Linked DNA regions of Homo sapiens. The protein of the gene in region 1 interacts with the protein of each later gene in a pairwise test. Each region holds a gene or a part of one and is shown in the gene's direction. Other genes may lie near its edges.

Region 1 (7,590 bases):
GGAAAATGTAAATTGGTGCAGTCTTTCTAGACTTGCGCTGTCCAGTAGAACTTTCTAGGTCGGTAGAAAAGTTCTATATCTGTGCAGTTCAATACAGTAGCTACTAGCCATATGTGACTCGAGCACTTGAAATGTAGTTAGTGCGATTGAGGAAGTGAATTTTTAATTTTATATAAGTTTAACTAATTTGAACTTTAATAGCCACATGTGGCTACCATACCGGATAGTGCAGACAAGAAGATAATTTGGCGACACATATAAAATGCTTTTAAAAAATGAGGGGTGTTCCTTTCCATCGAGCAATTTCATGTCCTAAAGAAAAAAAATCCAAATAGTCACAAAGAAGTACCTACATGTATGTTTATGGAGGTGCTGTTTATAATAAAAAGCTGAGGATTACATGTGTCTAACAGCAGTGGATTTACTAAGGTATGATATGTGTATAGTATTGAACCTGCATTGCATGTTATACAAGCTTGTAAGCTATTTTAGGAGAAATACATAATTCTTAACATACTATACACTTTTAGATGGAAATGCAATTACCAAACGTCATCTGCGTTATGATTCCACCTGTTTAAAAAGTTAAACACACACATGTGTATGTCTCTATTTACCAATATGGTACTACTATTTGTCTCTAGCAGGTAGAATTTTAAATTTTGTTTACATGTTTTTCTTAATTTTTCTGTACTGAACATACATTACTTTTATATTCAACAAAAATAAGTTATTTTGAATTTGTTTTGAAAATCATGTCAAGTGGGTCTCTAAACAGTGTGCTCACTTCCAAGCCCCTTGCTGTTGTAAAGGATGCTGCTGCTTTTATATTTAATCCTGGAGTAAATGTCTGAGTGCATCATAGGATTCTATGAAGCACATTGGAGACCCAAAAATGCTCCAGGAAAAGAAATGGTGGGGAGACCTTTACAGACATTCAGGTGGATGCCTCTGACTTCCTTTAGCTGTTCTGTTGCTGGAAGAGAAGGATATTTTTGTGCTGAATGAAAAACTTGCTAGAACTTGGTGCGGTAGTGCACACTCCACCAGCTTACCACCTCCATCCAGGCTAATTTATGAGATTGATGAGTCCAGAGCTAGGGGATGGGCCAAAACGCAGTGGTGGCAAACAGACCCCTGGGTGGTCGCTAAAGACATGATCTTCTGTCCTAGAGAGAACCTCCTCACACAGTGCTGTCCAGCACCCAACCACAGCCAGAGTGGAAAGTGAAAAAATGCTGACTCATTTTTTCCTTGGGCTTCTTAGATCCTTTCGCTGGCAAGACACTGTCTACAGTCTGAAACCGAGGGATCATAGGGGACTGAATCCACCATTCTTCTCCCAATCCCTGCAACTCCTTCTTCCCCTGCAACTGGTTCTCTTTTCCCATGACATTAAATCTCAGCTCATTTCAGCTTTAAGCAAGCTGCATCTCTGGCCTGGAGGGAACCCAGATTATACATTTAATGGAACGTCATGTTTTCTCAACCAGGAGCAAAGACTTCATAATGATAACCTAGAAAATACCACAGTAACACAATAGGGCATTATTAGTGGCTTTGGCGACTGGGCTGGTGGACTGGGCTGCACAAGGCTTTATACTGATGGAATTTCATGTTCACTTAAACATGCTTTTCTGGTTATAGTCAGGAAAAATAGATTGCTGGGAATTCAGTCGGGGATTTGAAAAGTTAGATTTGGAAGGCTCTGTTCAACAAAAAGCAAAGAAACAGCTAGCCTCTTTTAAGTCTTCCAGGGGATCTTCCAAGATGAATGCACCCATTTGACCAACCCACAGACATAACTACCTTCCCTCTCTCACAGCACCCCCCCACCCTCTCTTATTACGTATATGTTTATGTATTACATATTGGACTATTTTACATGGAGCTATTAGTCACTTGAATGGAGATAGTGGATTCTGCATCATGAATCTCAAGTGGCTGGCTATGTTATGTGTGCCCTGAAGACTTCAAAAATAGAATGTGGGAAAGAGAGCAGGAGGAGTGGAGATGGTGGTCTGGAAGGCAGGAGTAAACGCTGAGCAGCTTTATTTATAGGACTTGCCAAAGCCACAGCCTGTCATTCATTTTCTGCACCTAATAAATCCTTATATGTCTAAAGGCCCCCCACAGGCTCACCATGTGCTCCTTCCCCGTAAGACCTCCGACTCCCCCTGCCATTTCCCTTCTGTTCGGCACCAGTTTTCTTTTTCTTCCACTGTACAAAGGGATTCCATGTTGCCACTCCCCCAGAGTTCCAACCACAGCACCCACACCTGGATGATGCCCTGCTGGTGCTGATTTGCAGGACCACTGTTATGTGTTGTACTCCAGGGACAGGATCATCAGATAGATTTTTGTAGCATTAGGCTGGAAATTTCCCCATCAGGTATAGTACTGGCTTTTTTCTGGGAAAATATCTTCTGAGTTCCCAACTACTAACTTACAAAAGAAATACTGGATTGGGAACTTGTGTGAGTCTTGCAGACTCATGCTCTCTCACAAGGGTCCCAAAGACAACCTTGTTTGGTAGGTAGGGCGAAGCATGACTGTCCCTAATTTGAAGATAAGAAAACCTTTGTTCAGTCCACTGGGTTAAGTGACTTGCCCAAGGACCTAGGATTAGATCACGACAGAGCTAGGACAGTGTCTGCCCTTGACTCCCAGACCAGCTCTTTCCACTCATCTTCCCTGTAGAGTTGGGCCATAATGAGAAGCACATGGCAATACAACTAGAGGAACTGGGTAGATTCCAGGAATTCAAAATCCCCGCATCAGAGTTTCAGTAAATCATGGTGCATAAGGCGATTAAAGTTACTTAATTGAGGAGCTACTACTCTGCTGTTAAATCAGCTGTAGTTGATGGAAAGTATCAGGAACTCCAACCCCCTGCAACCCAGAGAAATGCTCCAGAGATCTAGGGGGTTAATTGATGAGTCAGACTTTAAGGTGTGTTCAGGACATTTTATTATGATAAATTCGTAATTTGTTCAGACTGAATCTGATAGAAAAAGGAAACTGAAGTCTGTAAATATGCTAAAACACACAGATGTAGCTTATTTTCAGAAATACATTGGAAGATGGCTTAGTGTCTGCAAAATTGGCTCTGAATAAGGAAAGCAAAGAGTTCAATAGAAGGCACCTTGAAGGTGCTACAATCAGATATTTTTTATATTTTTGGATTTTAATTCGTATAAGTCTTGTATATTTATTGTTAATTTCATTCCTAAGTATTTGATCATTTTGGTTATTGTAATGGGAAATTTTCTTCCATTTTAACTTGTTTGCTCTTAGACATATAAAGAGTATAAGTATCTGTGTTGATTTTGTTGTGAATTATTTTACTGTTTCAAATAATTTCCTAGTTGATTCTCTTGGGTTTTCTGGATATATAATTATATAACCTGCAAATAACAATTTTATCTCCTCTTTTCTCATTTCATACTCTAATTTCTTTTTTTCAACTTTTAAGTTCAGGGGTACATACAAACCTGCGCATCCTGCATATGTACCCCTGAACTTAAAATAAAAGATGTTAAAAAAAAGAAATTACATAAGAATGTGTCATGGAGTTTTGTTGTACAGATTATTTCATCACCGAGGTATCAAGCCTAGTACCCATTAGTTATTTTTCCTGATCCTCTCCCTCCTGTCACCTTCCACCCTCCGACAGGCCCCAGTGTCTGTTGTTCCCCTCTATGTGTCCATGTGTTCTCATTGTTTAGCTCCCACTTAACAAGTGAGAACATGCGGTATTTGGTTTTCTGTTTGTGCATTAGTTTTCTAAGGATAACAGCCTCCAGCTCCACCCATGTTCCTGCAAAGAACATCATCTCCTTTTTTATAGCTACATAAAATGCCATGGTGTATATATACCACATTTGCTTTGTCTAATTTATCATTGATGTGCATTTAGGTTGATTTCATGTCTTTGCTATTGTGAATAGTGCTGCAGTGAACATATGCATGCATGTATCTTTATAATAGAACAATTTATATTCCTTTGGGTATATTCTCAGTAAAGTGATTGGTGGGTCGAATGGTATTTCTGTCTTTAGGTCTTTGAGGAATTGCCACACTATCTTTTACAATAATAATTTTAAAGGGCATCAGAAAAATAGTTATCAGGGGCCAGGAATTTCTTTTATTATTATTATTTTTGTATTGAGGTGGACTTAATGCTTGGTTTTAAATGCTCCTCTAATTAAGTTCCACATTTGGAGAAGGCCTTTGAGGCCAGGCAAGAGTTGGTAGAACTGCCTGCAAATTGGATAGTTTGGCATATGGGTCAAAAATAAAAATAAATAAGGCAAAACTGTTTTGTTTTGTTTTGTTTTGTTTTGTTTTGTGTTTCTGTCTGGGTCAGCCAAGTAACTACCTCTACTTTATTTAGCTGTGGAGACCTGGTTAAACTCAGTGTCAAGGAGTGTTGGAGGAAGGCACCTGTCCCAAGATAACCTGTAATTATGTCCAAATGCTAAAGGATTCCTAGTGGTCCAGAAACAAATTCTGGGATCAATTAGGGAGACTTGGCTGTCACATAAATGCAAATGGGATTTGCTCTATGCTAATTTAGAATGTGTGTCTATGTTTGGTATGCGGCCAAGAGACTGGATCTTGCCTCTCCCCCTGATTACTCTGCAATAAAAGACAAAGAGAATATTTAAACATTTGTTGACACGTTTTTCAGACACGTCAGGTTCATACTGAAAAAGTAATTAGATTTCTCCAATTTGACTCAGCAGATTCTTCCATTCATTTGGCATAGATGACATACTCAGTTTTGATCACAAGTGTGTACTCCAATACATGCGTGGATGAAACAATGCCTATTGCAAGCAATGTCCTGCTATGGGAGGTAAAAGGAATGCAAAATAAACAGGAAGAAGTCCCAGGCTGTCAGGTTTTTATGGAGAAAAGTTAGAGGACTCTAGGCAGCCAGAGCTAAAGGCTTCAGTGAGGATTTGGGAAAGGGGCCAAGTAAAGTCAATTTTAGATCAGTAAGAAATAAGAAGTAACATTTACTGAACCCTTGCTACCTGCCAGACGCTATAGTAAACACTTTGCCTGTATGACCCTGTTTAGTGTTTACAACCCCCATAAGGTCTGTACAGTCATCATTACCATTTCACACGTGAGGAGACCGAGGTTTAGAGAGGTTACCCAAGGTCACTCTGAATGGTGAAACTAAGTCTCAAACCCAAGCCCCTCTGACTCATAATCTATGCACAAAGTTAAAAAGAATCTAAATATGCAAAAGAACATTGAATCAATCAAGGTAGGTCAGGTTATGCTGTGATAACAAATAACCCCCGAATCTCAGTTACACAAAACAACAAAAGTTTTATTCTCTGCATATACTACATGTCTGATAGGAGTCAGCAGGGCTCTTCTTATGGTGATGGTTCTGGGAGCCAGGCTGGTGGAGATTCCTTCCTGATACCTCCTGCCACCATCAAGGCTGCGAGGGAAGAGAATGCTAGATGATGTCTTGCTGGCCATGAAATGCTCCAGCCAGAAGTGACGTGCATCCTTCTCCTCACAGCCTGTTGGTCAGAACTGGTCAGATAGCCTCACTTTATGGAAAAAGACTTGAAGAATAATCCTCCATGTGCCTAGATGGAAGGGAAAGCCAGATATGGGTGGACAATAAAAGCTTCTACTGAAAACGTATAATTATAGCTTGCTTTGGCTTGAATAAGCAAGAAAGAAGTAGCCATTGAGAGAGAATAAAGAGATAAGACTTCTGGAGAAAGGTCAGTTTTGAGCCAAGTCTTGGATATACAGCATTCATCAACCTAGAATTACTGTCAGACGTGATGTTTCAAATATGCCCAAGAGGCAATGATAGCTCCTTCTCTTTTCCTCCCTTCCCCATTCTCTGCATACTTTAGATGAAATATTCAGTGAGGTGGGCGGGGGATTAAATTAGATTAAATGGAAAGTAGAAATGGAGATTAGACATGCTCTCCTGCCACCTAAGTATTACATGAATATATTTGAAAGATAAAACTCTCTTTTTCCATAGTTTATGGAATACGAGGGAATTTGAAAGGCTGGGGAAAGACAGCAGCCCATGGAACACAGACCACTGCAGCAGCAGAGCTCAGAGGATGCCTGTACACTGCAGGGGCTGATTCTGAGTTTGAATCAAGAGTATCTGGGCTCCTACTAGTGCTTCTCAATGAGGGTGCTGTTAGCATTTTTGATGGGACGGTGTTTCATTGTGATGGACTGTGGGATGCTTTAGCATTCCTCATCCTTGCTTTCTAAATACCATTAGCCTTTCTGGTCATTGTGATGACCAATAAATAACAGCCTCTATACTTATTTCTAAGGTTGGTACCACCTTGGTTGAGAACTCCTGACTAAAAGAAGGCAGGGCAGAGCAGGGTATGCCATTGATGTTGATTCCTAGCATCCAAGAACCACATCTGGGCATTTGTCTGAAGGAAGAAATTGGGAAGCTTCCATGATAAAAGCTCCAGTGGAAATTGTAGACCTTGGGAATGAATATGCTAAACTGAGGTTCTCAACCAAGGGCCAGATCACAACTTCAGAGGCCTGAGGCAGACGTGTATTTTGGAAAAGCTTCCCAGGTGATTCTGATTCAGGTCCCTCCCTCAGTGAGTCATAAGACTGAACAGGAAGACAAGAAAAGTTGCCCCATAATGATGGCTCATGGTTATGGCCTTATGATGAGGATATAGCTGAGGCAGCACACACCTTGGAGCTGGGCTATAGGCAGAGCTCTTATTTTAGATGGTGGCAGAAGAAACCACACACAATATGAAGGCAGAAGAGCAAAGGTCACTGAGAGGCCATGTTTTGCCCTTCAGTGTTGCCAGGTCCTGCTGTGTGTACATATACATTTAAGCCATGTTGTTTACTAGCCAGGACACTCCTTTGCTTCCTTTCTCATAAGTCTCCCTACATGAAATGTGCCTCATGGGAATGCTTAACACAGGGCTTAAGAAGGCCACCTTCGGAATCAGGCATCTGCAGCTTTAAATATCAGCTCAATGCTTCAGCAAGCATTGTGACCTTGGGCAAATTATTTAGCCTCTCCGAACTTCAGTATTGTTAATAAAATAGGCATTAAAATGTCTGCCTCACAAAAGTGTTGTAAAGATTAAAACCTTTAATTAACCATTTGGCACATGAGTGCTGAGACGATAGATGGTGATGGTGATGGTTATGGTGGTGGAGGTGGACGTGATGATAAAGATGATGGTGATGGTAGTGGTGATGGTGACAGTGATAGTGGTGATTATGGCAATGTTGATAGTTGTGATGAAGATGATGATGGTGATAAGGATAATGGTGATGGTGGTGGTGGTGATAGTGATAGTGATGATGATAATGGTAGTAGTGATGATAGTGATGGTGGTGGTAGTGATGATGGTGATGGTGATATGGTGGTGGTGGTGGAGGTGGAGATGATGATGATGATGATGATGATGGCAGTGGTCATGGTGGTGGTGGTGTTAGTGCAGAAACAGAATATGGTCCTCTAACAAAAGATGCCTCCATAGATTCCAAGCAGTACTGCCTGGCTAGGATAAGGAATATATCAGTTCAATATTT
Region 2 (7,590 bases), on another chromosome or scaffold:
TTTTAATGATTGTTTTAAAATGAATGCTTCCTACTGCTCTTTTGGTAAAGCCTCTGGATCAGACAAATTTTAAGTCCTAAGATTGGAAGGTAAATACTTAAAAAAAAATCATTGCTATTCGCAGCCATTCATTTCTATGATTCAGGACTTCCCTTGTTATGGTGCAACCTAAAGAAGGAACTGAACATTGTATGTAGATGAGGTTATAGTACTACAGTTGCCATCTATATAAGCTGTGATTTTATTTTTAAAAACCCTGTCAAAACAATCTAATATTAGGTTGTTGGACTTTCCCATTTGAAATCGGAACTTAGAAATTTGTGCTTATAAACTATTATGTTGATATTTTATCTGTAGGGGTTCTATACATGATTTATTTGAACATAAATTTCCTTTGCTAAAAATGGGAAAGTTGCTGGGCTATGGATGTCCTCTCCACATCTGACCCCTGACTCCTCCTGCTGTCTTCCGTAGGTGGAGGCTGCATGGCTGGAAGGCCGGATCCGGCAGGAGTTTGATAAGCTTCGCGAGTTCTTGAGAGTGGAGGAGCAGGCCATTCTGGATGCCATGGCCGAGGAGACAAGGCAGAAGCAACTTCTGGCCGACGAGAAGATGAAGCAGCTCACAGAGGAGACGGAGGTGCTGGCACATGAGATCGAGCGGCTGCAGATGGAGATGAAGGAGGACGACGTTTCTTTTCTCATGGTAAGGAGCTCAGCGTCTGGATTCAGTGACAGGGCCACATGTTCCAGGACCAGCTGGGAGCCATAGCCCACCAGCCCTGGCCAACGTCATCTTCCTGGAGCTTCCTGGGTACTGGCCTGGAGGAGCTCACAAGTAACCTGCTCTGCTTGTGTCATGAAACTAAAAAGACTTATCAGGGCGGAGTTCCTTGAAACCCTGTTATTTCTTCCTCGCTCTTCTTTTTTTTAGAGACAGGGTCTTGCTGTATCACCCAGGCTGGAGTACAGTGGGTGATTATAGCTCAGTGTAACCTCAAACTCATGGGCTCAAGTGATCCTCTCTCCTTAGCCTCCTGAGTAGCTGGGACTACAGGCACGAGCCACCATGCCCAACTAATTTTTTTCATTTTTTACCAGTCAGGTAGGGGTGAGGGGGGTCTCACTATGTTGCCCAAGCTGGTCTTGAATCCCTGGCCTCAAGTGATGCTTCCACCTTGGCCTCCCAGGTAGTTGGACTACTGGCGCACCACTGTGCCCAGCTCCTGTCTCTTCTTTCTTCCTTTCTCTTGCCCTCTCTCTTACTCTCATTTTTTTTCCGGTCTCTACCTTTTAATAAGATGAATTCTTTTAAAATCATTCAATTATTTAAATTTTTTATTTAAATATAATGCCTTGGCTTTCTGTCTTCTTAAGAAAAGGATGATTCCATTCTCTCTTTAAAAAAACAGTATTATTCATTTTTTTTTCCTTTTATTGATTTATTTCCTCCCCATGAGCCAGTGGTCCTTACAAATTTCCTACAGGGAAATTTCTGGGCTCGAAAGCTGGTCTGTAAACTGGCCAGGGTGGTGAGGTGTCTCTTGTACCTGGAAAACAGCTGACTGCTGTGGAAGGGGTGTCGCTGTAGAGTGGAGTGGGAGGCGACAGGGACAGTTATCTGTTCAGGCAGTGTCATCTCCTGGGTGGGTCCTTTAGGAGTTCTCCACCTCACTCAAAGCCTGGAACCATGAAGTCTCCTGTCTCAAAAATGTCCCTGATTATGAAATCATTCTGTGTTCAGAGCTGTCTCTAAAAAGAAAAATGAAGAAAAAAAAAAAAGAAAAAGAAAAATCATTTTGTGGGATCTAAAAGCTGTGTGTCTCGAGGATTCTGTTTAGGGAATTGGGAGTATTGTCTGCCCAGTACTCAGAGTGCTTTCAGGGATGATTTTGGTTTGTGACTCTTTTTTATTTTTTATTAACAACTTTATTGAGATATAATTTACATGCTAAACAATTCACCCATTTAAAATGTACCACTCAGTGATTTTTAGTATATACAGAGTTGTGCAACCATCACGACAATTTTAGAACATTTCATGCCTCCAAAAGCAGCCCTGCTTTAGCTGTCACTCCCCAGTTCCTCCTCCCACATAAAAACTGCTACCGAAATTGAGTCTAACAGAGTGGTAATTACTAGAATTAGCAGCCCCTGGCAACCACTAGTCTACATACTATCTATATGGATTTACCTGTTGTAGACATTTCAAATGCATGGAATTATATAACATGTAACCTTTTGTGACTGCCTTCTTTCAGTCAGCATATTTTGAAACATCATTCATGTTGTAGCATCTATCAGTACTTCATTCTTTTTTATGGCTGAATAATATTCCATGGCATAGATATATAATCATGCACTTCTTAGTGATGGGGATATGTTCTGAGAAATGTATTATTAGGCAGTTTCTTCATTATGCAAGTGTCATGGAGTGTGCTTACAGAAGCCTACATGGTGTAGCCTACTGCACACCTAGATTATATGGAATAGCCTTTTGCTCCTAGGCTACAAACCTGTACAGCACGTTGCTGCACTGAATACTGTAGGCAACTGGAGCCCACTGTTAAGTATTTGTATATCTAAACATAGAAAAAGTACAGTAAAAAACAGTGATATAATCTCATGGGACCATACCATAGTCATATATGTGGTTCCTTGTTGACTGAAACATCGTTACGTTGCACATGGCTATATTATATTTTATTGATTGATTTATCAATTGGTGGTTGCTGTGGTTTAAATATGTTCCCCAAAATTTATGTGTTACAAACTTAATCCCCAATGCAACAGTGTTGGGTGGTGGAGCCTAATAAGAAGTGATTGGGTCATGAGAGCCCTCATGAATGGGTTAATGTTGTTACTGGCAGAGTGGGTTAGTTATTGAGAGAGTGGGCTTGTTATAAAAGTGAGTTTGGGCCCCTCTTGCTCTCTTGCTCTTGGTCTTATGTGTAGTCTCTTGCCCTTCTTCCTTCTGCCATGGGATGACACAGCATGAGGGCTCTCATCAGATGCTGGTGCCATGCTCTTGGACTTTCCAGCTTCAGAACCACGAGTGAAATAAACTATTGTTTATAAATTACCCAGTCTGTGGTATTTTGTTACAGCAACACAAAATGAACTAAGACAGTGGTCATTTGGGTTGTTTCTATTTTGGCTATTATGAATAATATGACTATAAACATTCAGGTAGCAATTTTTATGTGGACATGTTTTCATTTTTCTTGGAAATATGTCTGGGAGTAGATTTGCTGGATCAAATGGTAACTCTAGGTTTAACTATTGGAAGAACTGCTAGGCCATTATTCAGAGCAACTGTATCATTTTATATTCCCATCAGGAGTGTATGTGGATTCCAGTTTCTCCATATTTTTGCCAAAATTTGTTTTTTAAAAATTATAACCATCCTTGTAGGTGTGAAGTGGTATCTCCTTGTGTATTGCATGTCATCACATCCCTGATGGCTAATGACTTGGAACATCTTTTCATGGGCTTTTTGATCATTAGTAGATCTTCCTTGGACAAATGTCTATTCACATCCTTTGCCCATTTTTAATGTGGGTTGTCTTTTTATTGTTGAGTTGTAAGAGTTCTTTATATAGTCTAGATACAAGTTTTTTATCGGTTTTAGCTCTTCATGTAGGTCTTTGATGCATTTTGAGTTTTTTTTTTGTATATGGTATAGTAAGGGTTAGTCCAACTTCACTTTTTTTTTTTTTTTTTTTTTGCATGTCAACATACAGTTTTCCCAGTACCATTTGTTGGAAAGACTATTCCTCCATTAAATCATCTTGGCACTATTGTAAATAATTGATTGATGGTAAATATGAGGGTTTATTTCTGGACTTTCAATTCTATTCCATTGATCTCAGTGCCTGTTTTTATATTAGTACCATACTATCTTGATTACTGTTGATTTGTAGTAAGTCTTGAAATTGGAGATTATGAGTCTTCCAATGTTCTTCTTTTTCAAGATGGTTTTGGCTATTCTGGGTTCCTTGAAATTTTGTGTGAATTTTAGGATCAGTTTTTTAGTTTCTGCAAAGAAGCCAGCTAGGATAAGGGATTGCACTGAATCAGTAGATCAACTTAAGGAGTCTCTTCTTATGTTTTCTGTTGCTATGACAGAATATCACAGACTGGGTAAATTATAAAACAATACAAGTTTATTCAGCTCAGTGTTCTGGGTGAGGCCAGGAAGTCCAGGAGCATGATGGCTCTGGCATTTGGTGTGGGTCATCTCATGGCAGAAGGAGGAAATGAGTGCAAGACAGAGTAGTTGCTCATTGCTTTATAGCAACCCAGTCTCATGACAACTAAACCACTTCACAATAACGGTATTAATCCATTTGTGAGGGCTCTGCCCTCATGACCCAATCACCTCTTTTTAGGCCTTTCCTCCCAACACTGTCGCATTGGGGATTCAGTGTTCAACACATGAACTTTTGGATAATATGTTCAAATCATAGCAGGGATGTTATTGTTAACATCTTGACAATATTAAGACTTATGATCCATGGAATGCATGACTTCTTTTGAGGTCAGAAACATATACATTTCCTCTACATCTGTGTCTCTGTGTTATTTTTTTATTTTTATTTTTTCAGAAACACAAGAGCCGAAAACGCCGGTAAGTTGCCAAAGCTGGTGGAGGGGAGGGGAAGAGTGGGCAGAAATACCAGGGGTGCAAACTCCAGTGGCCCCGGGGCAAGCAGGTAACAACCAGCTGGGTGCACCAGCACACATGAGCTACTGGCCCTGGTTTTAGAGGGAGAGGTGGACAATGGCCAGGTGGAGAGAGCCCTCTCACAGCATCCAGTTCAAGTTGGCTCTGGGGCAGTGTTGTTCTCCTGAGTGTGGAGGGTCCCCACCTGCCGTGCAGGGAAGGAGAACACTATCCTGCATGTGGCTTGCATTTCTCGGGGCCAGTCAATGTCAGGCTTGTTTCTTGATCAGCCCCCTCCCTCTGAGAGCCTTAGGCCATGGTGGTTTGTGTTGATGGTTGTTGGGTTCACAGGGATGAATGAGGAAGAGCTGTGTCCCAGTCAGAGCTGTGCAAAGATGGAATAGAGTGCTTTTGGAGGGAGTGAGTTCCCTGTGCTCACTTCCCACTGGCAGTGTGCAAGCAAAGGCTGGAGGACACCTTGGGATTGTTGGACTAGAGCATCCTTAGGGTCCCTTCCAACTCAGACATCCCATGAGCCGGATGTGTAAGTGTGATTTCTGCCTGCAAGGATGGCAGCCATGTTGGAGAACCTCCTGTTTGTATTTCTCCTAGTTGGGGCAGGGTGAGCCCTCGGATTGAATGCTGAAGGGAGATGGCAGCCCTGTTGGCCTTGGCCCATCTCCCATCGTAGCCCAGTCCAGTCTTGTCTTGGAGAAGGTGGCCAGGAAACTTGGGCCTGAGGGAAGGGAACAAGTCCTGTTGCTGGTTTCCAGTTGGCCCAGTTCGGCCCAGGTTGCATGGCTCTGGCCCTGCCCACCATACCCATTGTACTTTTCCAGACTCTTCTGCACCATGGAGCCAGAGCCAGTCCAGCCCGGCATGCTTATCGATGTCTGCAAGTACCTGGGCTCCCTGCAGTACCGCGTCTGGAAGAAGATGCTTGCATCTGTGGAATCTGGTGAGCGGGGGTGCCGGCAGGTGTCCCAAGCATGGGTGGAAGCCCTTCATGTTAGCAAAGAGGCACCAGGGCTGGTCTCTGCCGGGCCCACCTCCCACCTCCTCAGAGCTCCCCTCCTCTCTCAGCTGATCCCTCTGCCAGTCCCTCGCAGGCAGGTTCCTGTACCCTGGTCTTTTCCACTCTGCCCAACACCTCCAACCCTCCTGGTAGAATGCCTTCTCTCAGGGTCCTGACACTTGGTCCCTTCTTCAGAGAGGGAAACTGGCTTTCTTGCCTATTCAGAACTGTGTTTTGTATGATAAAAGACCTCCTGCATCTGGGCTTGCCTCTCCTAAGGCGACTGCAGCCCACATGAGCCACAGTGTCCTGGTTTTACGGGGAGGAATATCACTGACTCAGGGAATGGGCCGTGCTGTCCTAACATCCCTTGGTCGTGTGAGTGTTAAGAGTCTCTGCCTGTATGAGTTCCTGTGGCTGCCATAACGAAGGACCACAAACTAGAAAATGACAGAAGTTGACTCTCTCACAGTTCTGGAGGGTAGAAATCCAAAATCCAGATGTTGGAAGGACCAGGCCCCCTCTGAAACCTGTAGAGGAGAGTCTTCATTTCCTCTTCCGTCTCCTGGTGTCTCCTGGCCATTCTTGGCCTTATTGGCTCCCCCTCAGCACTTTGATCCTCACCTCCGCCATCACACAGCATTCTCCCCTGTGTATCTGTGTCTGTCTCCTCTTTATTTTAAGGACACAGGTCATATTGGATTGGGGACCCTCCTCCAGTCTTCATCTTAACTAATATGTGTACAACCACCCCATTCCCAAATAAGGTCACACTCGGAGGTACCAGGGGTTGGGACTGCCGCATATCTTCTGGGGGATACAGCCCAACCCCTGCCACCACTCCAGCCCTGGGCCACTCCTTGCATGGACTTGGGGCCAGGTGTGACACAGTGGTTGGTTTGTGGGGCTGGAGATATCCACGTGTGGCCTAAGGGACCTCAGGTTTGCTGATTCCCCATTTCCGCCTCTGCTTGCAGTACCCTTCAGCTTTGACCCCAACACCGCAGCTGGCTGGCTCTCCGTGTCTGACGACCTCACCAGCGTCACCAACCATGGCTACCGCGTGCAGGTGGAGAACCCGGAACGCTTCTCCTCGGCGCCCTGCCTGCTGGGCTCCCGTGTCTTCTCACAGGGCTCGCACGCCTGGGAGGTGGCCCTTGGGGGGCTGCAGAGCTGGAGGGTGGGCGTGGTACGTGTGCGCCAGGACTCGGGCGCTGAGGGCCACTCACACAGCTGCTACCACGACACACGCTCGGGCTTCTGGTATGTCTGCCGCACGCAGGGCGTGGAGGGGGACCACTGCGTGACCTCGGACCCAGCCACGTCGCCCCTGGTCCTGGCCATCCCACGCCGCCTGCGTGTGGAGCTGGAGTGTGAGGAGGGCGAGCTGTCTTTCTATGACGCGGAGCGCCACTGCCACCTGTACACCTTCCACGCCCGCTTTGGGGAGGTTCGCCCCTACTTCTACCTGGGGGGTGCACGGGGCGCCGGGCCTCCAGAGCCTTTGCGCATCTGCCCCTTGCACATCAGTGTCAAGGAAGAACTGGATGGCTGAGCTGGCCCGGGGCTGCCCCGGTCTTGTGCCACAGCACTGTTTTCTTTCTGCCCTCTTCCTAATGCCCACACTGCTTGGGCACTATTGCGCCCCTGCCTCCTTGCCAGGCTCTTCCTCCTGTCCTGCCTGGTCCTTTTCCATGACTCCAGGCTGTGCCTCTCTCCATGTTTGGTCCCTTCTGTGCCCATGGTCAGGAGCTATTCGGGTGGCACCTCGCTGGCCAGGCTCTCCCGAGTCGTGGCACCTCCACAATGTGAATTTTCTGAATCCCTATTCCAGGATTTCTGGGAATAATGTTTACTTCTAGAATGGGCCTGTTGTAAACCATCTCATCGAGGTGTGGTAAAGCCATTGG
Region 3 (8,463 bases), on another chromosome or scaffold:
AAAAAGTTTACTTTAATCTTATCTTATCAATATCAAATTATACTTTCAGTTGAGATGTTATGTTGGATCTCTCTGTAGAGAGCTCTTGGCAGAGAACTGCAATGTATTAGTTGCTTTCTTTTCTTTTGCTAAAATTCGATGACCTACAGTTTTTTAACTCTGTGTTTCCATGCCGTTTTCCCCATTGTTAATAACACATATATATTTTTAAATGACCTATACAATAAACACAAGGGCATAAGAAATGATGAATAAGACAGTGCTTCTCAATCCCATTTACTTTTGGCTATATTTTCCAAGATTTTCAGAGGATACACTTCTTTAATCAGTGGCAACTACTGATGTGCCAGATAGCTTGGTGGTTAAATGTATCACCACTATCAATTATTGACAAAATTTTTCACAATACTTGGTTTAGTAGCAAGGATATTTCAAAATTTATCTTATCTTTGTGGAATGGATTGAAGAGAGAAGATAGCCTCCTTCACTTCTATAAGCAATTATGGGACTGTTTGGCATTGATAAGAAAGCTGGGTGTCCTTTAATTTCTTTATTGCTAAAGCCAGTAGGGTAGACCATAGTCTTTGTAAACCAAGGCATCATACACAGAACTAATTTCAAGTTGGGTAGAATTCTTGTCATTTGGCTGAATCTTTAATTTCTCGAAGAGATTCACTATGATTAAGGAATTGAGAAGGGTAATTGGGCACCCCTTGGAGCCTTTGAAACAAATTTGATTTAAACTCCCCACTATGGACACAGGTTGTTGAATTCAAGGGATCAACATATCTCCTTGGAACAAGGATGTTCAAACCACTTAGGAGCAGTGTATAAAAAAGTACATTTTCTCTACTTACAGGCATATCTTAGTCAATATTTGCCTTTTAGAGCAGATGTGCCCAGTGCCTTAAAGGGGGGCCATTGGGAAGACAGGAAATTGTGAGTTCTGGGTTTCTGGCTTCTATAGACTCAGCTGAGATGTATTTTCTTTTTCAACCCTTCTAAATGGCTGGGCCTGGGATTTTCCCAGTCAAATTCAAAAGCTAGCCATGAAGAAAACTAATTTTAAGACATAAACAAGTATTTTAACATAACATCTAAGACATAAACAAGTATTTTTAAATGTGTCTTGAATGTATTCGTATCACCTCATTAAACAATGTCAGAACATGGCCAGAAGCCAGGAGTTGAAGGAGCCGTTGCTTAATGAGATAGTAATGAGCAAACATCGAAGCTTGCATTTTCCTTCTGCTTGTTCCAAAATGCATGACTTAGCGGGATAAGATATTTGAGCTCCAGCTCTTAAATAATTTTAAGATATTTCTTAGGATAGTTGCTTTTCCTTTTAGTGTTTGATTGTGTCAAGAAGTAAAGGTTAAGAAATGTTATTTTCCCCTTTATTGAAGCCGTAGGGTGTAGTGGTTAGTAGAGTAGTAATTCTGCTACTAAATAACTGTGTGACCTTGGACACAGTGTGCAATAAATGCCAGTTATGATTATGACGTATAATTGAGGAAAAAATAAGGATTTGAATAGACAAATTTCAAGTTAGGGAATAGGAAAATTTTTATACAAATGCTTTAGTAGGGATGTATTATTTACTTTAAATATTAGAAATTTGACTACAATAAATTGACTTTAAACCACTTGATAACATTTGCTGCATTTTGTTAAACCAAAAAAATTTAATATTTATCAAAATGAAATTATTATAGGTGCTGATCTTGTTATTGAAATTTCTGGTTTATTTTACTAACTTGAATCAAAATATCTCTTTAATTTTGATAACTTTATAGTCAGTTCAAGGGTAAAAAGAATGAACTTTTGATGACTCAGTTACAGTTCCAATCAGACCATTTAAAGGAAAATGAGAGATTTATCTCTATATATAGATGAAAGATTTATATATACATATATAGACTAACTTGAATTGAAGGTTAGTAGAGTAAGTGAGAGAGCTGGCCAGGCACAGTGGCTCACGCCTGTAATCCCAGCACTTTGGGAGGCCGAGGTGGGCAGATCATGAGGTCAGGAGATTGAGACCATCCTGGCTAACATGGTGAAATCCCATTTCTACTAAAAATACAAAAAATTAGCCGGACGTGGTGGTGGGCGCCTGTAGTCCCAGCTACTCGGGAGGCTGAGGCAGGAGAATGGCGTGAACTTGGGAGGAGGAGCTTGCAGTGAGTGGAGATTGTGCCACTGCACTCCAGCCTGGGCAACAGAGTGAGACTCCGTCTCAAAAAAAAAAAAAAAGTGAGAGAACCAACAAAGTATAATAATAAAAGTAATAATAGTTAACATTTATTCAGCATTGTAGACAATCAAGCATCTAATTTTTACAACTCAAGGAGGTAAGTATTATTATAATCCCTATTTTATAGGTAAGGAAACTGAGGAACAGATGTATTAAATTGCTTGCTGAGGTCATGTAGTTGATAAACAGAGCTGAGATTCAGGTCCAGGTAATCTGACTTTAGTGTCTGTGCTAAAATCTTTCTAAAATATAAAAGCATAAGCTAATGCTTGCATATAATAGGATTCTAATAAGTTGAAATTATTTAACAGAAATTGCCATACTGTGGCATCTTTATGAGTTGGGGAGCATTAATAAGGTAATTACATTTTAACTAAAAGTTAAGAAGAATAGCTAACTTTAGATTTCTTAATGATATTTTGCTATAAACACTAATTCTAAAACAGAGCTGTCCAAAATGTCACATATATAATTTATAATTTTCTAATAATCATGTTAAAAAAGTGGAAAGGAACAAAAGTTAATGATTTTAATAACATCTTTTATTTAACTCAATAAATTCAAAATATATTTTAACATGTAACCAATATAAACATTATTAATAAGATATTATTTTTTTAAAGTTATTGTTCCAAGTCTTTGAAATCTGGTGTGTATTTTGCACTTACTGAACATACCAATTCAGTAGCTAATTCATATGTGGCTAGCAGTTACTGAATTAGACTGTGCAGCTCTAGATCTTTTTAGGAAAGCAAATTCATTATTTTAACCTCATTTCAAAAATGGTGAGAATAAGAAAGACTAGTCATGTATCCACACATTAATTTTTAAGCTTTAGTATCTTCAGTTTCAGTTTAGCTAAACAGACTAAAAGCTGCCACTTAACCTATTCAAATGATATCCCCTGGTAAGTAAGGTGGCACATTTTAAGATGGTTTCCTGACAAGTCTTTTAATTTTCTCCAAGAGGCAGAATGGAAGCAGACCTTAAGATAAAGCTAAACCTCTTTTGGAAAAATGAATGTCTGGAAGAATGTCTCACAGAATAACGCAGGACCAGGTCACTAAGCAATGCTCTAAGTGGGGACACAACGTGGACTTTTCCAAGCCTTCAGCTGAGGGCAGGGATGGCCAAGTCAATGGTCCCTCCCTGTTCTGTATTCAGTTTTTGATCAGGCAGTAATGTGCATGCAGGTCAACAAACATTTATTAAAGCTTTTTGTTTTTGCTTCTTCATTGATAAATTACTAATAAATGCTCATTTGAAAAAGCCAAACAAACCAAATATGTGTACTAAATTGTACATCGTAAGAGGTAACTGTCCCTTCAATTTTTTTTGTAGTTAACAGGTTACCACTTCTAGCAATTAGGTAGGCATTCTTATAGACCTTTATCCCTATGTTTTTGTTCTGTTCCTATATATCCAGTTTTTTTGTACAGAATGGGATCACCCACACATACGGTTCTGAGCCCCCCTTTTCCATTTAATAAGAAATCAATATCTATGAATTTTATATATTTTATTCTTATTAATGGATGCATAGTATTACATGGTATGAAGTGCCACATTATTTAACCATATCACTATTGATGGGCATATAAGTTGTTTCAAACATTTACTATTACAAAACTTCTGCAATGCATATCCTTTTATATCTATCATTACACATTTGTGTGTTTCTGTATGACAGATCTCTAGAATTGAGATAGCTGGGAGAAATGTATGTGCATTTTGAATTCTGGCAGGTATTGCCAAATGCTTAATGGCCTGCCAAAAAGACCTTGTCTTTTGACTTCATCTGGAATATTATTGACTTCATTCAGAATATTCCCATTACAAGAAAGTGGCCAGTCTCTCCGAGGAACAAACTGTTTTCCTTTTCCACCATGAAATAGATCTTATCTTTTCATTAGTTAATATAGGTGTACCTTCAAATGGCAATAACATTGTTCTGCTTTGTGGCTTCTCAAGTAGTAAACCCAGAAAACATCAGCTACCGTGGATTTTATTATAAATCATTGACATTCCTTTGGTGATTCACAAATGCCAAAAAATAAATGTCATGTTCCCCAGGGTTTGAAGAAAGACACTGTAGCTTTTGGATTCAGCAACGGATCTTTCAAGAAAACAGTATGGAGGGATGACTCACTCCCCCCATGGAGGCTGCCCTCTAGTTCGTCCTTTAGAGGAAGCATGACCAAGGGTCTGCTGGTACTTTTCTCTCCCTCTCTAAGAATTTCCTCAGGAGAGGAAAAAGTTAGCTTTCTTTTCTCTGCTCCTGAGTGCCATGGCCTGCAGTACGTGACCAGTCCTTGGCACAGAGTCACTCAGGGCTCATGGTAGATGCTTAGCGGTCACAGCCAGTAGCTGCGCAGTGTGGCAGCAGCTGAGATCCATACTGCAGCCTGAAAGTTGTGTTTCAGCTTCTGAGGTTACAAGTGTATCCAGTGTTTACATCAGAGATAAAGCCCCCTTTCCCCTCTCTCCTACGGGAGCCCTCAACAAGACAGATACACGGGTTGGGTGGAGTGAGACCACATCCAGCAGAGGCAAAGCTTGCTAAAAGAGAGAGGAGGAGGAGGGGGAGAGGGAGGAGGCGGCACGGCGTCCCTTGGCAGCTCCGTGCATGCTGCGGCAGTTGCAACAGGAGAACCGAGTACCAGTTGCTCAACACTTTATCACTTTGCATTGCTCTTTCTCCTCCCTTAAGTGAATTTCCATTTTGAGGGTACAGCTCCACAGGAGAAAGGTGTGGTGGTGGTAGTGGTGGAGGGTGTCTGTGGGGGGGATGGTGGTGCGACGGGAGTTGGAATGTCCAGTGTGGGGAAGCAAAGGAGTGCCTACTAGGATGCGAATACCACTTGGCCCTGGGCTCGCTCCGCTTTAGCCTTCCCCTCTCGCTGGGGAGAAACAGGCGGTTTGTGAGGGAGACTGAGAGAGGGGCGTGTTTGTGGTGGTGGCGGCCCATCGGGGGTCCTTGTCCTCTCCGAATACCCGGACTGCTGAGGGGAAGGGCCGGGGGGGCCCCGGCGGTTGCCATGGTGACGCAGGGTCGGCGGCTCAGCGCCGTAGAGACAAAGCCGCCCGCCCGCCAGCCCGCTAGCTCCTCGCGCGAGCTCCTCCTCCACGGGAACCTCCCTCCCCTCCCAGGCGCCGCCGCAGCCGGAGCGGCTCCCGGGCCCTGGGCCGCCGCCGGCCAGGTAAGGCGATCGCGCCCGCGGCCGGGGAGGGGTCGGCGGGACGCCGGGCCTCCCCAACGCTGGGGCAGCAGCCAGCCCCGCAGTCCTGGACGGCGCCGGGCCGCCCAAGCGCGCCGAGGAGAGGGGGCGGCAAACTTCGGGCCGAGCGGCGCCGGGGCCCGCGCGCGGAGTCTCCCTCCGGGCACCACGGGGGCCGCCGTCCTGGCACCAACTTGAGGGGCTGTGCGGCGGAGGGCGGCTGCGGAGCGCCCGCGCGGGCTGCACCTGCTCAGGGAGCTGCCCCTCTGTTGTTGTTGTTATTTTCCTTCTTGGCGTGCCATCGAGGCTTTTGGGGGAAAAAAAGGTATGAAAGTATTTACCTTTGGACTTTCATGTTTCATGGCATTCTCTTTGAGGAGGGGTTGGGAGGGTAGTAAGAGGGACAAGCGAAAGATTTTTACGAATCTCTGAAAAGTGAGCCCATTTTTATGCCTGTGGCTGAAGCATTTTGAGGAGGCTTCTGAAGTTCGTTTGGATATTGAATCGAAAGACCTTTTTTTCTTTGGAAGGTGCAGTTGCACCTATAACTGGATGGTAAGGGTAGCCCGGCTTTCCCCGACTAGCAAGACCAGAATGTAGAGCAGTACCGATACTTTGTCAAGGAGATACTTGGCACCGAGGTCATTGCTTTTGTTTCTAGAAGGTATTGTGTTCATGCTGTAAGGAACTGGAAAGTGCCTTTTGTTTTTATGTGTAGGGAGGCAATCCAAAGCACCTCTGGAGGCAGGTAGCTGGGCGGTGTTTGCATCGGTGTTTATGAGTGGGATGATGAGGACCACGATGCGGTTGCCACTGGGGCACTGGATAGGTTATAGGTACCTTTCTCAGTGGCCCCAACCCTTGCAATCATTTCGTGATAGTTTGTTGCAGACGCGAAGCACAGATTTAAATTGTGACTGTGAAGACTTTTTTTTTTGGTACTTAGACATCATCTTACATGTAGTAATATGAAAGAAAACAGATACATTTTCAGAAATACAGTTGATCAATTCAGAAGGAAATTGTATATATGTTAATAAGATTTGTTTTAAATCATATTTAAACAATATGAGATGTCATATTGATAACTGGAAAATAATCTAACATATAAAATTGTATATCCAACTTAGTAAAATAATGTATAAGTTGGAATAGGTCATTTAAAGAACTATATGGAATGCAAGAAATTATATTTTTGCTAGAGAGTAATTAATGAAAACAGTACCACTGATCATTTTGAATTGCAGTTAAGTTGATTGGAATTCTGCATATTACAGCTACTTGAGGTGTCAGGCAAAGAGTGATTATTTAATATTCCTCTTCCCTCTTTTGGGATTTCAACACCTGTTAGCCTGCTGATTACTAGGTTTCTCAGTCTGTTCATATTTGCCAGCAACTTCAAGTAATGCCACTTCATTAGAAGATTGTATTGGAAACTAAAGGATTGAAGTTGCAATTAACAGTTTGCAGGTTATTTCACAATTGGGCTTGTTTTTAAACTGAATTTTACCTGTGGAAGATTCACAGATGCTCTGCTAAATACTCTTTCATGACGGTAATAAAATCGTACATTGATTAAAACGAAGTAGATCTGTTTTGAGAAGATAAACGGGAGAGAAAAGTATTTTCTCACTTAAGCATGAACAGCAAATAGGATATTGAAGCCTAGGCACATTATATAGACAGAGAATGTAGTTTTATGTTTTGTACTAAAAATAAATTATTTTGTGTGTTTGTGTGTGTGTGTGTGTTTTTTTTTTTTTCCTGAGGGACCAACAGAACAGCTTTATTCAGATCTTTGTTAGCAAAACCAGTATTCAAGTTCAAGGACTTGGTCCGTGCTTTCTGCCAGATGAAACCCACACTGTGAGTTCTAGCCTAAACATTTATGTTGTGGCCCTTAATCTGAGTGCTGAAGAACGGAGATATCCATGGTGAATTTAGCACAGTAAGGACCGGTGCTTTGCCTTTGCTGCTAGCTCACACGGGCACAACATTCAATATAGTTTGGCTTCTTCAGAGCTGCATCATTTTCTGCCAAAAAATAAAGTCGGTATACAGAAATCAACAATCATGTATTGCATGCACTGCTTGGTTGTAGTGGCTTATTAATAAGAGCTCCGAAGCATGAAATGAAGCTTGTGTCAGTGCAGTGGAAAACAATAATCTGGCATGTTTATATGTGTTACTAGTGTTCTGAGGTATGTGCATAACCAGATAATGAAAGAAAAAATACTATGATATCTGCAATATGTCCTTAGAAAATGCAAACAGCAATTGTGTTTTCTGTCCATGGTTTAGCCACCTGGTGGAAGCAGGCAACAGCATTGCATATCCCCAGGTGTAAAATACTAGTCATCACTCTTGCTGATTCACGGGAGTAGGAGTCTTTTCCTGCATTTTAGCTTACGGGTTTTAATTTTATGACGTAAAATTGGTCCTAATTTTTGGTATAAGCTGTAAAATATGGCCTGATAATTGTCACCATAGCTGTATTCTACCTGAAAGAATTCTGTAATTCAGTTTATGAAGCATATCCAAAGACAAAAAAAAGCCACAAATGTTCCTGTTTAAGTTAGGATTAACATTATGTTTGTGCCATTGAAAGTCAGTTGTTTGTAACCATATAAGCCTGCATAGGCAGCCTAAATAAAGCCACTGAAGCCTTTATTGACTGTTTCTGGGTCAACATTCTCTTGCAATTTCTAGTTGCACTGTGATAACATGATTACTGGTTGGTAATTTAGCATCTAGTGCAATGTGTTGTAGCATTTATAAAAGCACATTTGTGAAGGATGGTAGTTTTTAAATGATTTCTTCATTACCAAAACACTTAGATTTAGATTTGTGGCTGGGGAGAATAGTGTGGCCCTGAGACCTCAAGACAAAATGCTGTAAATATCAGGTATTGTTAACTGACCTGCTGTGCACAGTGGGTATTTGTCAGAACTACTGTGCTGAGAAAAGGCACAGGAGACACATGGTCAT

The links. Proteins that work in one complex are often made in the same cells at the same time.
Region 2: the proteins of ANTXR1 (region 1) and TRIM35 interact in a two-hybrid assay, tested with the Homo sapiens proteins (one study listed by BioGRID).
Region 3: the proteins of ANTXR1 (region 1) and RNF182 interact in a two-hybrid assay, tested with the Homo sapiens proteins (one study listed by BioGRID).

The regions. Positions count from the first base shown.
Region 1 is NC_000002.12:69,016,076-69,023,665, forward strand, and holds part of ANTXR1 (anthrax toxin receptor 1 isoform 1 precursor), read left to right. Parts: intron 1-7,590. UniProt on the Homo sapiens protein: Plays a role in cell attachment and migration. Interacts with extracellular matrix proteins and with the actin cytoskeleton and thereby plays an important role in normal extracellular matrix (ECM) homeostasis.
Region 2 is NC_000008.11:27,287,195-27,294,784, reverse strand, and holds part of TRIM35 (E3 ubiquitin-protein ligase TRIM35), read left to right. Parts: intron 1-474; coding exon 475-705; intron 706-4,606; coding exon 4,607-4,629; intron 4,630-5,504; coding exon 5,505-5,623; intron 5,624-6,657; coding exon 6,658-7,235; 3' UTR 7,236-7,590. UniProt on the Homo sapiens protein: E3 ubiquitin-protein ligase that participates in multiple biological processes including cell death, glucose metabolism, and in particular, the innate immune response.
Region 3 is NC_000006.12:13,919,567-13,928,029, forward strand, and holds the start of RNF182 (E3 ubiquitin-protein ligase RNF182), read left to right. Parts: upstream 1-5,385; 5' UTR 5,386-5,457; intron 5,458-5,538; exon of another isoform or gene 5,539-5,800; intron 5,801-8,463. UniProt on the Homo sapiens protein: E3 ubiquitin-protein ligase that mediates the ubiquitination of ATP6V0C and targets it to degradation via the ubiquitin-proteasome pathway.